Regions from separate parts of the Homo sapiens genome. Here region 1 is linked to region 2. Evidence: fine-mapped QTL for protein levels in blood plasma. A gene starts in region 2. The other region holds a variant in brackets. All regions are shown on one strand. Distances are between the middles of the regions.

Region 1 (8,332 bases), 92 kb before region 2:
CAGGGCAGCCTCAAAATGCTGGCGTGTAACGCCCCCAGGTCAACCCCTGTGAGTGTCAACTTGACCGGATTGAAGGATACAAAGTATTGTTCCTGGGTGTGTCTGTGAGGGTGTTGCCAAGGGAGATTAACATTTGAGTCAGTGGACTGGGAGAGGCAGACCCACCTCAGTCTGTTTGGGCACTATCTAATCTGATGCCAGTGCAGCCAGAAAAAAGCAGGCAGAAAAACGTGGAAGGACTAGACTGGCTGAGTCTTCCCGCCTTCGTCTTTCTCCCGTGCTGGATGCTTCCTGCCCTGATACATCAGACTCCAAGTTCGTCGGCTTTTGGACTCTTGGACTTACACCAATGGTTTGCCAGGGGCTCTCGGGCCTTCGGTCACACACTGAAGACTGCACTGCCAGCTTCCCCACTTTTGAGGTTTTGGGACTCAGACTGGCTTCCTTGCTCCTCAGCTTGCAGACGGCCTATTGTGGGACTTCATCTTGTGATCGTGTAAGTCAATACTCCTTAATAAACTCCCTTTCATATATATGTCTATCCTATTAGTCCTGTCCCTCTAGATAATGGTGACTACTACAACCTCCAACCAAAGAGAGATGAGGGTCAGTCCATAAACGTCCAGCTTTCTGTTCCTCGTAGCATTCTCCCCACTTTCTCAGTGGGTTTCCAGGGAGACTGAGCCCCAGTTGCTCTCAAGGGTAACATGCTTTTAGTTAATGCACCATCCCTTGACTTGCCAACTTCTTTGTCTTGCTTCTCAGTGGCCTCATTTGTGCTTCCCACACACCTTCCGAAACAAATGACTGCAGCCAAAACTTGGTCAGGATCTGCTTTCGGGGAACTCAACATAAGACTGGTTTATGAATGACCAGTCAGCTTCTTCAACTACAACTCCTATCAAATGTAACTGTTTTAAATGGGGTCTTTCAAAACAAATATTCTTTCCCAGATATACAAGTTCTGACAATTTCTTTTTATTGTGCTATTTCTGTTTCTAACATCTCTTATAAAATTCATGTAAATGCTGGGAATTTACTAGTCTCTTGAAATCAAACATGCATAGCTAGCTCCCTTTGCAGATGCCCAAATGCCTTCTCTTAGATGACTTTTTGCAACAGCAGCATGGTTTTCACAGAGACATCTGACATAGGCAGGAAAACAATATCAGTTTTCCAGGTTGAGCGATACTTGGGTGGTGTCACCATCATGCACAGAGGCCCTTGAATCACTGGCCTTTTCCCATCACTCATGACCAAATGCCTTCAAGCTTTGACTACTAGATTCCAAAATACTACTTCTTTGGTGTTTTGGTCTTTAGCAGATTTATACCCACCATAAAGTTGGGTGGAAGACTAGGGAATACCACGGAAAAGGATTTCTGAACTGGCTCTGCATGGGATCTCAGGAATGCTGAGGGGTGGCCCAAAGCTGGAGAGCATGATTCCAAGAAAGCAGGAAGACCCCAGGAATCCCATGGCTCTTACAGCAGCTCACCATCAGTATTCATCTCCCAGGGAAGGGGAGGCACAGGCAGCGGCAAAGCTCAGACCCAAACTAAACCGAGGAGGGGTATGGCAGAGGGCAGCCTCTGGACTGGGCCCCCTGGCCTGGCAGTGTCAGCAGTCCCCAACTTCTCCGGAAGCCACACCCAGATAGGTGGAACCCTGAGAGCCTGGCTCATGAAGAGCAGCTAGGTCCAGCTGGAAATCTGACAACAATGGAAATTTGGCAGGAAAATACGAACCATCTCCTAAAAATGAACCACCATGGGGAAAGAAATTTAAAATGGTTCTTGAGGGTTCAAAACATTGGCTTTCTACAAAAAGCCTGGCACCCATTCATAAGTGCTGTGATTTCTTTTTAATTATGCAGAAAATCGTTGAGGGAATGAAAGTATAAAGCACTTGTATTTAAAAATCCAGCAAAGCTGCTGTTGAAAGGATTGAGATGTGCTCACAGTTGAGCACAAATAGACGTCCTCGTGACTCGGCCTTGGAGCCCAGGCAGGCCATACTCAGCCCAGGCCACCTTCTGCGCAAGCCCTCAATGCGTGCCAGAGCCCCCAGCTTCTCCAAGTTCTTTCCTAAGCCAGAGCAGCTCAGGATAATGAGAAGAGATGGAAAAGACTACAATGAAAGGAAGGAGAAGGATAGAGACTTGCTGTCTGAGAAAGAGTGACGGAAGGTCTTGGGGAGGGTCATGTGGAGGGCATGCTTTGTTCTGGGAAAAGACACATGGCTTAGATCTGACTTCCAGAGAAAGAGCCAGAAACATCTAGAGAATGGCAGTGAGCGTCCCACAGGAGCCAACCTTGGAACTCTGAGAGGGCTTCTGGGTCACCATAACTTGCCCAGATCCTCCATTAGAACATAGCTGGGTGAAAAGGACCACTCTGACCCTCTGTTTCATCATCTTTAAAACTGGAACAATGACCGCTACTGAACGGCACCACCTAAGATGTGTGTGAAACACCTAGTACAGCACCTGACCCACAAAGGCTTCTGGATAAAGGTGCGCTGTGTTCGTTACGGTCACACCAGCTGCTAGAACAGCCCAAGACCTCAGTCTCTTACTTCAATAGAAGTTTATTTCTTAGTCACAAAATCCAAAACAGGTTTTCTTTATTGGCAGGCCACCTTCCACGGGCCAGGCTGGAGGCTTCCCCAGAGAGAGCTGAGTGGATATGAGGGTCAGGGACATGTCAGGGTTCAAGAAAGGACACAGAGTCCTTGGCATAGTCTGGCAGAAGAATGTCTTGGGAAGAGAAATCCACGAGCTGTCAAGGGGTCAGGAATCCTGCAGCTCAGATCATGTTTTGCTGAACCCTAAGTTAGGACAGACAATGTAACAAAGGATTTTGTTTTATTTGCTCTGTGGGAATAAATGGGAGAAACTGCCCATCCACCACCTGAGCACCTTGCCTTACCCTAAGTTAGCAGCACACACAGCTTAACCAGCCACTCACCTGGACTTACATCACTTCCTGCTTCTCCTGAGTCAGGTGAGATGGTGGGTGTGATTGTCCCAGCAACCTTGAGCAGCCAAGGGACACACACAGAGAAGCAATGCATAGATAGAGTGAACCAAGAATGGCAGGGATGGGCATGCTGGCAACAGGAGGTGGAAAGGGAGAGAGGGTTCTGGAGCCCTTGGAAGTGAGTCTCCTAGTGATGGGCCCTGCCCCAGTCTATTGTAACACACCTTGAGCAGACCATCTAGGTATGTTACAAATATTGGTGTCCTACTCCTGTACCTTGGGCCTGACTACTCCCCCAAGTTCCACATGGGAGTATCTGCAGGTCTTTGCCAAGAACATTTTCTTACACTACAGAAGGCCCCTTTGCCAGTGTGCCTGCAAGCCAAGAGGACCAGAGCATGAATGCCTCAGTGACCCGTGGAAACAGGTGTATGACTACCCAAACTCCTTCAGCCCTCTGCTGGCCTACGAGGTGCAGTGCCACAGGTGCACCTCCCAGGGTTTCCCCGAGGGATTGGGCTCTGGGCACCCACAGTGGACGCTGACTATACACCTCTTAACAGTGCTCTCCCTTTGCTTGTCTCACTCCCCACTTCTCAGCCACTCAGTGACTTCCTTCACCTCCCAAATAAACTACTCACACCCATATCCTTAGTCCTAAGGGCTGCTTCCGGAGGAACCCAAAAAGTAAAACCAGATTGTGATGCTCATTTTAGGTCCATAGCAGATCAAGTCAATGGGGGTGGCGGGGGCAGGGATCCCTTGGGAAGTGGAGCACTCAGCCCACCGCTATGGGAGCTGGGCCCACAGCTCTCTGCTCCGCAAGTTCCTGCAAGAGGCTGGTGTTGGGTGCCTGGCAGATCCCAGGGTTGGTCACCAAGGGTCACAGCTCAGAGCACACTGACCTGAGCACCCCATGGTAGCTGCCGAGATAGAAGAGGACTGGGGAGGAGGTCATGGCGACCTTGTGGGGACTAAGTGGCGCTTCTGAAGAGGGCCACACTCCTCTCTCCTTTCCCAATAGACCAACTGGCAAATTCATCCCGATTTTACATAAAACATTTCTGCTGACACCCAAGATTCCTGTAATTCTACCCTCAGCACTTGTCAGGACATATGTATTTTATCCAATAAGTTGTTTCCTTTGTAAGTGGAACTCAAGTGCCACCTGAATATGTATTTGTTGGTTTCTTGTATTATTTCTGAAGAGAGAAAAAAACAGTCTTTAAGAAAAACAAAAAAATGAAAGACCTTGTGCTTTGAGACTCCAGAAAAGGGGTTGGGGGTCGTGGGGCAACACTGAATCTCTCAGCCATTGTGAGAGGAAGCAAATCAACCCCCTGGGAAAGGATCACTGTGGAGAGGAAGACAGGAGGAGGCTGAGGCTCTGAGGGCCAACCAAGAGTCAGAGGAAAAGATAGAAGCCAGCCTGACTCTGAAAATCAGAAACACTGCCGGGACCCAACAGCAGGAACACCTTCCGCTCGGCCATGGAGCACTGGAGCATGTGGGGCTGAATCCACAAAGCGGGGGATGCTTGTCTCCAGCCGGTCTCTTTGCACACTGGCTGATAAAGCTCTTTTGCCTCCTCCACTGGAAACGAAAGGCTGTTGCACAGCTCCATGGGGCCAGAACCAAACCCAGTTTCCCCAGCCTAGGGGTGATTCTGACAATCGCTGCTATGGAAACAAGACTGCCAAGAACGTCACACCCAGGAAACTTTCAATATACTTTATTAAAAAGTTTCTTTGTATAAATTTCCTAAACATTTTAAAATTAAAATTAAATCCCCTCCCTCCAGCACACA[C/A]AAAAAAAAAACACACAACATTAGAGGAATGCCAAAAATATTCTCTATTACAACTTTTTTAAATTCTTTAATTAAGGCATTGGTCCCAACGGTGCACATAGATTAAGGGATTTTGCTTCCTTCTGAACTAGATCATTTGTTAGAGGCTTCAGAAAAAGAAAATTAGCTTGAAATCTAGTCTGGGAAATTGGGGGCAGGGAATGAAAAAGTTGGTCTCTTGTTTCTCCACGATACACAGGCTTCCCATCTAAAGTCATGCTTAACTAAAAGGGAAAAAAAATGAACCAAGCAAAAGTATATAGAGTAGCCGTGACATTTGCATTATTTTCTAGACTTTACATTTGCCTGCAACAGGCATAACATGAAACTCCAGAGGGAATTTGGATTGATAGGAATGTTCACATAAACACCAGCAGTGGCTAACTGTTACACAACATTCAAAGTATTCGAGAGAACTGCCTGGAGACAGAGAGCGAGGGTCCACAGACACATTAGCACCATACTGATAGGTCATGCAGCAGGATGTTCCCTCCCGAGTTCGAGTGTAAATCAAAGCATGAAATGATACAGTGCAAGGGAATCTACACCCGGAGCTTCTACAGAGACAAGTTGGCGATGGCTGACTCCTTCTTCTTCAAGAGGTATATGATGTTGGCCACCCACGCTTAGGTTCCCATCACACTGATGACTCCGGGTTTGGCGAGCACTGAGCGTCGAGAGAGGGGGTGGGTGGGGTGAGGTGAGGAGCCGAGAGAAGAGAGGAAAAGCCACATTACTGACCCAAAAGGGCACTGTCATTATCATGACACAGTCCCGCAGCCTCTGGTTTCCATCACCTGTCCCACTTTTCTACTCAGTACCATCAAAGGCCCTCTGTGACGTTCTTGGCCTGGGGCCCCGGGGCCCAGGGATGTCTGGGAAATCTGATCCCATTCTTTTGCCCTGCACCATCTACCAGGCCTTTATACGAACTGAACTCTCCCCATTCTGGCACTGACCCCAGGCTCTGTTCAAAGTGTTTATTTTATTACCAGTTGAACTGCACAATATAATGGAGATACTGGATGGCCCCAGTGACAACATTGTTATTTATAGGAAGCAAAACTATTTAAAAGATAAATTTGTGGGGGTTGTTTATCTTTGGCGTTATCTGTAGTTGTTCATTATATTATCTTCCCAGGAATCATTTTTGGTGCAATATTTTACAAATAACAGCAACTTAGTAACATTTCTGAAGAATGACAAGGGACAATATGTTTTTAGAAACCCAAAATAGGAATTCAAAAAGACATTTCATGGGTTGTATTTGAACGTCTTCCTTATCTGAGGATACACTTTATCTTCTTTTTCACATGTATCATAATCATTGCACTTCTAATATTTTTCAAGGTGACTTATTGACCTGAATCTCTTATTTGCAGAAGCCATAAACACAAGGAAGAATCACTTACCAGGAGCGCAAACCTTTTCACATTCTTTCTGTGATCCAAATTTGTTTTCGTTTCCACCACAACCTCCATACCAGAATCTTGCACAGCTTTTGGTGTTTGGATCATAGTACCATTTTAATATGAAATCCCTGCAAGTTCCTTCGTCTTTCGGCAACTTGCATATATCTTTAATAAAAACATGAGAAAAGGATATTAATGAGAACATGCGTGTTACTCGGCTCCCAGTGCTGGGGCTGACAGTCTGATGACCCTACTGTGGCAGAAGGAAAAAAAAGAAGAGCTTCCAGGTGAAAACTCCCTTAACCTGCTCAAATCTCCATTTCCTCACTGCCATATGGACATAGGAATTGCTTACAGCCTTGTGAGAGATAGATGAAATTATATCAATGAAAGGGCTTCATAAACAGCACTCAGAATCCCAAATGCTGGCAATGGTTATTGAATAATTTTAAATGAAATGAATTGTTTTTCCCCTTTCCAATCACTGGGCCATTTGCCCTCCAAGTCCTTCCATGTTAAATCCCCAGAAAAGAAACTGAATTTTAAAACCTCAGGGTTTTATAATTCTTGGCAAAATGGAAATTCGATTCTGTTGGGATATAGTTCAAAAATAAGGCTCTACCTTTCATTACAAGCCAAGTAGACTGAAAATTAAAGGTAAAGCAGAAAAGAAAATCCTTTATGAGTGTGTGTGTGTGTGTGTGTGTGTGTGTATGCACGTATGTGTGGTAGCCAAGAGCCTTTGTGACCTGCCAAATGAAACACGTAAAACAAAGAGCTAGCACTGATGTAAAATTCATGATGGCAAAAATGTCACATAGCAGAACTATTTTGAAGACAGAGAAGCATTCTTTTCCCAGTTAAGGAAGTTTATGTTTCCAATGCACACGTCTGATGTAGCCCAGCTGCAAAGTAAAGCAAAGGTCCCCTCGACGCCTGGAGAGAAGAGTTTACAGTTCACACACAGCACGACTCCTGTTTACAGAGTTTTCTGGCAAACTCCAGATTGTTCTGGGAAAGAGAAGCATTGATGTCAACTGTTATCTGTAAGTTTGAAAACGTAAACCTTCTTTCTCCAAAACTCCCTGGAGCCAATAATTCTGCATGTTCCTGTGAGTAGCTAACAGGCTGGAATTATCCAGCTCTCCCCTACAAAGAGATGCTTCTCCATCTCCTTTGTCCCCAGCGAGGCAGGCTGCTCACAGCTGCGGAGGTGGTGAGCATCTGTGCTTCAGATAGATACCAAAAAGGACAAGGAAAACCTAAGTCTTCAGTGGATAATCATAGCTTGGATCACCCACGATGGACCAGACTCAAAGGTGCACAGGACTGAGGCTCAGAATTGGTCTAAAACATTTCCTGGTTGCTGCTGTCACCCAAATTCCAGGCTGGTGGCTGGTGGCTCCACAGTTACAACACCTCCTAGTTGCAGACGCTCTCAGGGCCCAGAAAGCCAGTGGTCCCCACGAGAGCCTTTGAAGACTCCAGGAAGTCAGAATAAAATGAAGACAATTTACAAAAACAACCTTCTTTCTCTCAAATATGCCAATAACTGAAGGAAAATGCCTGGCTGTCAAGGAAGGTCCTGGAGAGAACTGACAAGGCAAGGTAATTTAACCATCAAAATTTATTCCTCATTTACTGGTGGCTTCCCTGTTAGCGTGAGGCCGGCGTCAAATGATCTCCCTATTCTTCCTTCCTTCCCAGAGCGTTGGCCAATGGACCCTATTTGCTCTATTTTATTTGTTTCAAGTGCACTTCAGTCCTGACCATCTGTGTTTAGCTGTTCAATTCCCAGTCCCCTGGGCTCTGCTGAACCAGTCACGAGAGGTCTGCCCAGAGCCACGGACACCCAGCCCATGAGTGGCCTCACAGCAGCACACTCCACTCCCCGTCTGATTGGCTTCTCCAGCTTCCTTGGCCCTCCACCCTAGCCCTCCAGTTCCACACCACGGCACTGGTGTTTTCTGCCCTTATTTCAGTGAGAGTCACTACTGAGACCCTGTAAGATTTACTAGTGGAAAATAAGGACACTGTTACTGTGGACAAGAAGATATTTGGAAAACCAAGAGAAATATATTAGTGAGGTGAGA
Region 2 (8,332 bases):
TAGGAAACTTTAAAGCTCCCCCACTTTAAAATTTGGAGGGTTTGCGGCTTTCATTTTCTTAGCTAGAGCTAATAGGATTTTCTTTAAATGTCAGGTCCCTCCTCAAATCGTCAGCTATTTATGTAGCAGTGATGTGTTTTTTACTGCCTGCTTGCTGCAGCCAGGACACCATGAAAAGTTTGCTCCCGTAAGTCAGGGTGGAAAAGCTGCCTGGTACACAACATCCCTGTCAGATGGAAACCGCCTGCAATCCTTCCCCCAAGAGATAGCAGATTTTCAGCTTCTTCCAAAAAGAGCAGTGACAAAACTGAACTTTCAAATAAAAATTTTTGCTAAAGCTGTTACTGCGCCTGCAAGGAAGTGTCACGCAATAGTATTCACGACTTGCCGGTGAATTTTAAGTCCTAAACATGGAATTTCACATATAAGTGGGAGGTGATATCAACCGCTGGTGAAGACTACGCTTGATCCAGTTGTCTGAACACTCTGAGCAAGGAAACAAATGAAACCTCGCTGGCAAAAAGTCACTGCCAGCTTCCAAAGCTTCCAAAGAAGGCGGTCTTGTTTCAAGCTGGCTTTAGGCATCCAGGTCTATGGGTTCCGTTCCTGAAACTAAGGTCAGGATGAGCAGCCTCATTGGAACCATAAATCAACAATCGACTGAAGAGAGGAGCTTCTTCCTACTTTCTCATCGGGGACGTATTAAGTTCTAGGATAGGAAATCACAAAAGGCACTGATGATAAAGTCAGTGCAATTTGCTGAGTCCTGAATGCTTTAGAAATAAAATGAAGTGTGAAGTAAAGACAATTTTTCAGAAAGGTGCCTACCTCGTATCAAAAATATCATTCAGACCCCAGGTTTGGACATTTGCCACATGTCCCCTCACCTGTGGGCCACAACTATAGTGGGGTGGAACACGCTCCCTGCCAAGCAGGGAAAGAGCGGGGCCAAGGGCTAACATTCTAGAGGCTTCCCCAGCCACCTCCCAGAAAGGTGCTGTAGCCACACCCTCCAATGCCTGGATAGGAAAAGCCAGGACAGCCTCACTTCACCCCAACATGGAATTCCTTCCCAAGCCCTCTGCTCCACTCAGTGTCTGCTTCCTGGCTTCTCTCGACCATGAGTGAGGAAAGGAGAGAACTAAACCTCTGGGTAGCAAGAAACCCCCTAAACAAAGAAGTCCAGACAGGCAGCTGTTCCTACATCCTGATCTTTGTAAAAGCCACGCCTCCCCACCCAGGCTTTCATCCTCAGCTACAAGCCCACTTCAGAAAGAAGAGCATACAGGTCCCCTCCTTCAGCGCCCTCCACCCCCAGGAGGTGGCCTGAGCAGGGCGGCCAGCCCCGGTATTCCGGTCACGGAACCGATGCCCCCGCCCCACGGTCCACCTCCCTTCTTTCTCGGTTCATTGGTAGAGTCTTAGTGAGCCCAAAGCAGTTTTCCCAACGAGATGTGAGTTATTTGGGATCCTCCGTCACTGGCTTGTCTGCTCTCCTTCAATGGGGAAGGATTTCACTGCCATCTCAGGCACTCGCTCCCTGGCCTGGGCAAGGAATTCCGCATCTCAGAGCCCCTGGTTGCTCATTTTGAAAACCAGGAAACTACTGCATCAGTGGCTTCTGACCAAAAATCTCTTCCATTATCTTTAGCCCAACAAAAACCTCAGAAGTCCCAGTAATGTCATCAACGGCCACCCACTCAGTTTTCAATATAGTTTTGCTTAGGAGCAATGTAACTTTGATTTTAAAGCCATTTCGGTTGTTTTTTACAGCATTAAGAATGGGACCCTGGGGAGCTGGGGGATCCCAGGTTGAGCATCCACCATCCCCGTGAGCTCTGAGCACCCTGCAGCTCTAGCACCCTGTGGTCCTCGCCGGGGTGAGCTGTATGTGGGGAGAGAAGCCAGTCAGCCGGGGCCACAGCCCTGCCTCCCCATCCAGCACAGCAGACTCCCCTGTGCTCAGAGGGGTTTGCTCCTGGGGTCTGCACCGGCCTCGAAACTGGCTCCTGGGGCTTCCTGTGGAAGCAGATTTTTCTTTAACCACTCCCTAGTCCCTCCCAGTGACCCCACCCATACTTCAATACCCGTTCATTATCCAACATAGTAGGCCCCTTGAAACAGGTTCCCCAAACAGGCTGGCCACTGTCAGCGAACGTGTCCATCCTCAGCAAGAGAGGGCCCGAGCCCCACCCTGCATCCTCCGGGCCAGAGAACAGCCCTCGGGGCCTCCCAGCTCGGCACTGGCCTCACCTCTGTGCAGCATGGGCTGGCCCTGCAGCCCCAGGGGCCCTGCCTTAGACACTCAGCATGCTGCCCAAATGCCCAATTCCTTCTTCTCCTCTGACCCCTGCAACTCCTTTAAGCAACCCCAAGGGACAAAGTCTCCAATAGAGACTTCAGGTTCCTGGAAAGACGAAAGCTTGACGGCAATGACTGAGCGACCCTTTACTTGGCCCTGATCCTGAGCACCAGAGTTACTCCAATCTTGTGAAAGCAGCAAATGTGCTCCACCAGGACCTTCCCATGGGCGGCCCTGGGCAGAAAACCCATGCAGGTTGTTGCACCCTGACCTAGTGTCACCACCCAGAGAGCTCAGAGAACATCTCCCAGCGGAGCCGCCCGGCAGGGAGCTATGCTAGTCCTCAGCAAAGACGCTTCTGCAAACAAAGCGGATCCCGAATGGGTTTTAGAAGGCGGCAGTAACTTAAATAAATCATGGGCCGAAACACACTGCCGCCCGGAATGCACAGGGCGCGTGTAGCAGCCACAGACACGCGGTGGAAAAGTGCTCACACTCTTAGGCAATCATGACCTTAACCAATTTAAGGAAATCCCATTGCCATAAAGTGAGAAAGAAAAATCAGCGGAATCTTCCAGAGACCTAAAACATGTACAGAAAACTGGCGATCAGCATGAACGTAAGAGCCACTAACGCTACCTAGAAAGGATCACTTCAGGTTAAGAGCATTTCCTTCTAGCCCCAAACCTGGAAAAACAGAAGAGAAATCACACTTACCCCTGAGCAAACCTGAAGGCGTGTGTCCCTGGGCTCCTCGATTCAATTAGGTTTGAATAGGATGCATACTTTTCCCACTCACTGCGTCTCTTTTTCTTTTTGCAGCCTTTCTCCACCAAAAAAGTGGAGACTCAGAGCTGCGGAGGAAAACTCTTGCAGTCCTTGCAGGAGGCTGGAGCCCAGGAGAACTGAACGGCCTTTGGTGGAAGACTGAGCTCCAAACTGGACTGGGGCCAGGGATACCAGTCAGGGCTTCCTCCAGCTCCTCCTCCTCCTCCTCCTCCCTCCCGGACCCCTCCTCTCCCCCTCCTCACTGCAGAACTGACCCAAAACTGTAAATGAAACCAGACTCCTCCACTCTGTTTCTTCTGGCCCCCGCTCAGGCTGATGTCACCCTCTGAATTCTGTCTTCACCCTACAAGCGTTTAGCTGGACTCCTGCAAGCCCCAACTCTTAAAAAAAAAAATTGACCACTCCTACTCGTCACCTTTTGGGCTGGGCCCTTGGCGTCAAAAAGAATAAATTTTGGAATTTCTTCGTGGGTATCCATGGTTTTCCTGCAATGTTTTCCAACACCATCTGAAAGGAAAACAGGAAATGCAGTCCCCCGCTTACCCTCACCACACCCTCCCATTTCTTCTTGAAGTTTCTGAATTGAGACTTCTACTAATAACTTCCCCCTTCAAATAGAAAAACCAGCAATTAAAATCGCCTTGGTTTTCTGTTAACCAAAGCTCTGTTCACCGGCAAAAAAAAGGAGGCTACATTTCTCTTAATTTCTATATCTAATGATTCTGATTGTGGCGCTTATAGGCCCATTCTAGGCACAGACGGGGTAATAAAAATGGTTATCTTGCCAAAGCTTCGGGAAAATACTTGAGTAAGAACTTCTGTTTCTAGAAAGCTTTGCACATTTCAAAACACTTCAATATACATTCTCTCCTTTATCACAAACATCAACACCCTAAGCCCTTTTAAATAGAAAGATGTCTTCTTTTATTAGGTGAAATTGTGGTCCCATTTTACAGATGAAAGAAACAGGCTGGGCACGGTGGCTTATGCCTGTAATCTCAGCACTTCGGGAGGCTAAGGCAGGCAGATCACAAGGTCAGGAGTTGGAGACCAGCCTGGCCAACATGGTGAAACCCCTACTAAATCTCTACTAAAAATATAAAAATTAGCCAGGCATGGTGGCAGGCGCTTGTAGTCCCAGCTATTTGGGAGGCTGAGGCAGGACAATTGCTTGAACCCAGGAGGCAGAGGTTGCAGTGAGCCGAGATGGCGCCACTGCACTCTAGCCTGGGCAACAGAGTGAGACTCCAAAAAAGAGAAAAAGGAAAGAAAGAAAAGAAATGAAAAGAAAAGAAGAGAAGAGAAGAGAAGAGAAGAGAAGAGAAGAGAAAAAAGAAAAAAAGAAAAGAAAAGAAGAAAAGAAAAGAAGTTCCGAGAGAGTAAGTGACATCGTCATTGTCCAGTCTGGGTTAGTAACAGAGCTCAAATGACAACCCAGCTTTGGCCATCCCCAAACTTCTCACTGCTCTCCCATCATGTGGTCCTTATGAAAAGTCCATTAATGTGAAATATCAAGAGACATCCGAAAGGTTCTTTTTGACTGAGAGATCCTTCCAAACCAAGTTTGAAGAGCAAAGAAATCATTAACTCCTTTCCATGGATTATCTCCCTCCAATTTAGGGAAGAAAGGAGACAGCACCCCAGAGAGAATGCCTGCTCCCCTCTGCAGCTCCAGGGCTCCCTTCCTCTCCCATAAAGAAGCCCAACCCATCTCTAAACCAAAGGGCTCACTTGCAGAGCACTGGAGTAGGGAACAAGGATGGAACCTGAATTATGGGGTTCTTAGGTGAAGACACGCTGAGCAGAGGCTCCGAGTATAGAACCGCGCTGCCTGCATGACATGTAGAAGGACAACACGCCCCTCCAGCGGCATCCAATTCTCTGCCCTCATCCTCTCTGCACAGTGCAGGCGTTGACTCAAGCCCCTACAGAGACCGGGGATACTTGCTGCCACCCCCTTGGTTAGAGTCTGCAACTTCAGCACTAAGGAGGACTATTTCTCCCAGAACATTGTCTGCTGCGAAGAAGACAATCTTTGATTACAACCCCATGCTCCAAGCAGCTCAGCAAACTGAGGTTAACTGAACAAGCACGTTTTAGGTGTTTCCACTCCACGGTTTCTTTCAAATACAAATACACTCTTTTTCGCAAAATCGCTAGGCAGATGCATTCCTTGGTATTGAAAGTTTCTATTACAGTCGACCTCGTATCCATGGGTTCTGCATCCATGGATTTAACCAACTGTGGTTCAAAAATGCTTTTTAAAGTAGATGATTGCATATATACTGAACATGTACAGATGTTTTTCCTTGTCATCATTCTCTAAATGACACAGTATAACAACTGTTTACATGGCATTTACACTGTATTAGGTATTATAAGTAATCTAGAGATGGCTTGAAGTACACAGAAGGATGTGCATAGGTTATGTGCAAATACTACACCACCTTCCTTCAGGGATTGGGGCCTCTGTGGATTTGGGTATCCATGGAGGTTCCTGGAATCAGTCCCCCATGGATACCAATGGATGGCTATATTTAAACAGCAAGGGCAAGAAATCATTTAGAACATGATTTAAAGAAATAAAAGCTCCCATTCAGTAGGAAACCATAATCTTTAATATTTAGCTGCACCTACTCATTGATGATCCAGATCCTCTTCAGCACTGCCCATGGCTCTAGAAACTTCCAGAAACTCATGGTAAACCTCCCTTGTGCTAACAAGAGAGAATTTGGGTTCTATGGCAGCTTTCTTCCTTAATCACCACTATGTGGATTCCCACTTACATTTCCAGTTCCTCTCTGCTACCTGATCCCAGGAGGAAAACAACCTCAAAAGTTTGAGCTGCCCTAAACGTCCTGAGTCCTGGATCTAGGCCCGGCCATCGGTGGGACCTCATAAGTCACTGAATCTCTCAGTTCACCTCATAAGTCACGGAATATCTCAATTCTGTTTCCCCTTCACTGCAGGCTTGAACTGGCTCTTGGCACCTCTTCCCATTTTCTTCCCTTATCTTGTCCTTAACTACACAAGTTAGCAAGTTCAGAACTCCATTTTCCAAGCTCCCTTGTAGCTGTGGCCCTGATGGGGATGGGGCCTCCCCATCCAGATACACGGCTATGGGATTGGAAGGTGGCCTGAGGGATGGCGATTTTCTGAGACTTTGGCTGCCCTTTCTCCTGCGGGCAAGGACAGTGTGGAAGGTCCCATGGGTGCCTCTGCAAGACTCCCCTCAGATGAGAGTCAAATGTTAGTGGTTCACACCCACGCCCTTTCCTGGAGGACTGTTCGTGGATGCTGGGATCTGTCTCTTCTGGACACATTGGGGTGTGTGAGGTGGGTGGAATTCCAAGATGACCCCCAGGAGTCAAGCCCTTGCGTAATCCACCCCCCTTGCGTGCAAATGGAAGCTGAGCCCTGATTCCAGCCTTTGAACACGACAAAAATGAATGGTGTCCCTTCCTGGATTAGGTTACAGTTGGGTCGTGGGAAGTCACCCAGGGATCACAGAAGACTCTGTCTTAGGAAACGGCAGGGAGAGATTATCTTGCTGGCTGCTGGGGTCTGGATGTCATGTCCCCCAAAAATCCATATGTTGAAATTCTAACCCCCAAAGTGATGGTATTGGGAGATGGGGCCTTTGGGAGGTTATTGGGTCGTAGAGGAGAAGCCTTGATGAATGGGATCAGTGCCTTATAAAAGAGGATATGGAGAGACTGCTCCATCCTCCCACCATGTGAGGATACAGAGGGAAGGTGCAGTGCACGAGTTAGGAAGCAGGACCTCTCCAGACACCGAATCTGCGGGCACTTTGATCTTGGGCTTCTCAAACTCCCAAACATGAGAAATCAATTTTTGTTGTTTAAGCCACCAAGTTTAAGACATTTTGTTACAACCATCCAAATGGACTAAGACACTGGCCTTGACAAAGTGAGCCGCCATCCTGTGAGGGCCAATGGCAAGGAAATGTGGGGGCCTCTGGGAGCTGAGAGCAGCTCCTAACAAGCAAGGAAGCAGGAACCCCAACTCGACAACCACAAGGGCCTGACTTCTGCCAACATCTACGTGAGCTTTGAAAAGACTCCGTGTTTCAGAAAGAAATGTAGTCTCCCAAACGGAGGTTTCAGCCTCTGAGACCCCAGCAGAGGACCCAGTGAAGCCAAGCCTGAACTCCTGACCCAAGATACTAAATGCATGTTGTCGTAAATTGCTAGTTTTGTGACAATTTGTTACACAGCAGTTGATAACTAGTACAGGGTTATAGCCCATCTCCCTTGGGGTGGCCCACAGCCAGTGATGTCTGATGTGGGATGTGACACTCCAGTCCATTGCCTCTGGGCCAGAAAAACTTGGCAAGAGGATTCTCACTGCAGAACACCTGCCATGGGACCAGCCTGACTTCTCAGAACCCACTCCTTGCCTGGCTTCTTCTCCTGCCCTCATCCTTCTTCCTGCCTTCCTTCTAGGTTTCCCCTGGGAGCTCTCCCTCAGTAATCGCTTGCACAACACCCTGTCTCAGGCTCTGCTAGAAGGAACTTGAACATACACACAGTCATAGAGAAGCCAATATGAAGACTCCAGCTCCCTGAATGTTAAGAGGCAGTGGCAGACTGTGTAACAGACTAAGCATCCGAGTTCCATCACAGTCTCCAGGACTCAAAGGGAAGTCGCAGCCACAGCAGCAGCATCTGCCACACCCCGCATCCCAGCATCCAGACAGCTGCTGAAGGGTGCCTCGATCTTTGTCCTGTAAACCCTGGATTGCGGCTGTGCAGTGTGTTCCTAAGTTCAGTCTCTCCGGGGCAGGCTCCTGTTTCCCTGCCTCCCAGAATAGACCAGAGGGTTTATGCTGGGATATCCTGGGAGATATTCCTGGAGGGCCAGCTCAAGTCCACTCTTCTCACCCTCCCAACCAGCTCCCAGTGATGGATCTGCAATCATGTTAATAGATTTGCTTGTTGCAGTGAGGCTGGAGTTTCCTCTTATTGAAGAGGAGGTATGTGACATTCCAAAATCAGCTTAAAGTAAAATGCTCCACTGAGGCAACTAGGCCTGTTTCAAGACAAGAAGGATTAGAAGCCCAATCAAGGAAGAGGACTTGAGGCTTCCACTGACCCCACAGCCAGAGGGCAGCTGGGGTTTCTCATTCCATCCCTGTGCCTGTTTTAAGCCTCCTCGAGTGTCAGAGTGGAAAGTTGAGCGGATCTCTGGGAATGAGGCCCTAGTGCCTTCTTTGCTACT

Direction of the effects. Alleles are on the strand shown, and positions count from the first base shown. The strength of an association depends on the size of the effect and on how common the allele is.
For the plasma level of the protein whose gene starts at base 3,231 in region 2, C is the low allele of the variant in region 1 and A is the other (moderate association).

The links. PIP is the chance, under the fine-mapping model, that this variant and not a neighbour inherited with it causes the effect. The UK Biobank Pharma Proteomics Project read protein levels with antibody pairs (Olink). The fine-mapping took linkage between variants from a reference panel, not from the people measured, so its PIPs are less certain.
Region 1: its variant is fine-mapped to the plasma level of the COL6A3 protein (UK Biobank, PIP above 0.99).

The regions. Positions count from the first base shown.
Region 1 is chr2:237,319,321-237,327,652 of GRCh38, forward strand. It overlaps COL6A3 (collagen type VI alpha 3 chain), which reads right to left. Exons shown (of 44, transcript NM_004369.4): 43 at 6,240-6,404; 44 at 4,698-5,494. The coding sequence ends at 5,454. Among named protein-coding and RNA genes, the nearest start is that of COL6A3, 91 kb to the right of the region's middle. RefSeq lists an enhancer at 5,188-6,387. The variant C/A (reference allele first, on the strand shown) is at 4,789.
Region 2 is chr2:237,410,934-237,419,265 of GRCh38, forward strand. COL6A3 (collagen type VI alpha 3 chain) reads right to left here and starts at 3,231. Exons shown (of 44, transcript NM_004369.4): 1 at 3,020-3,231.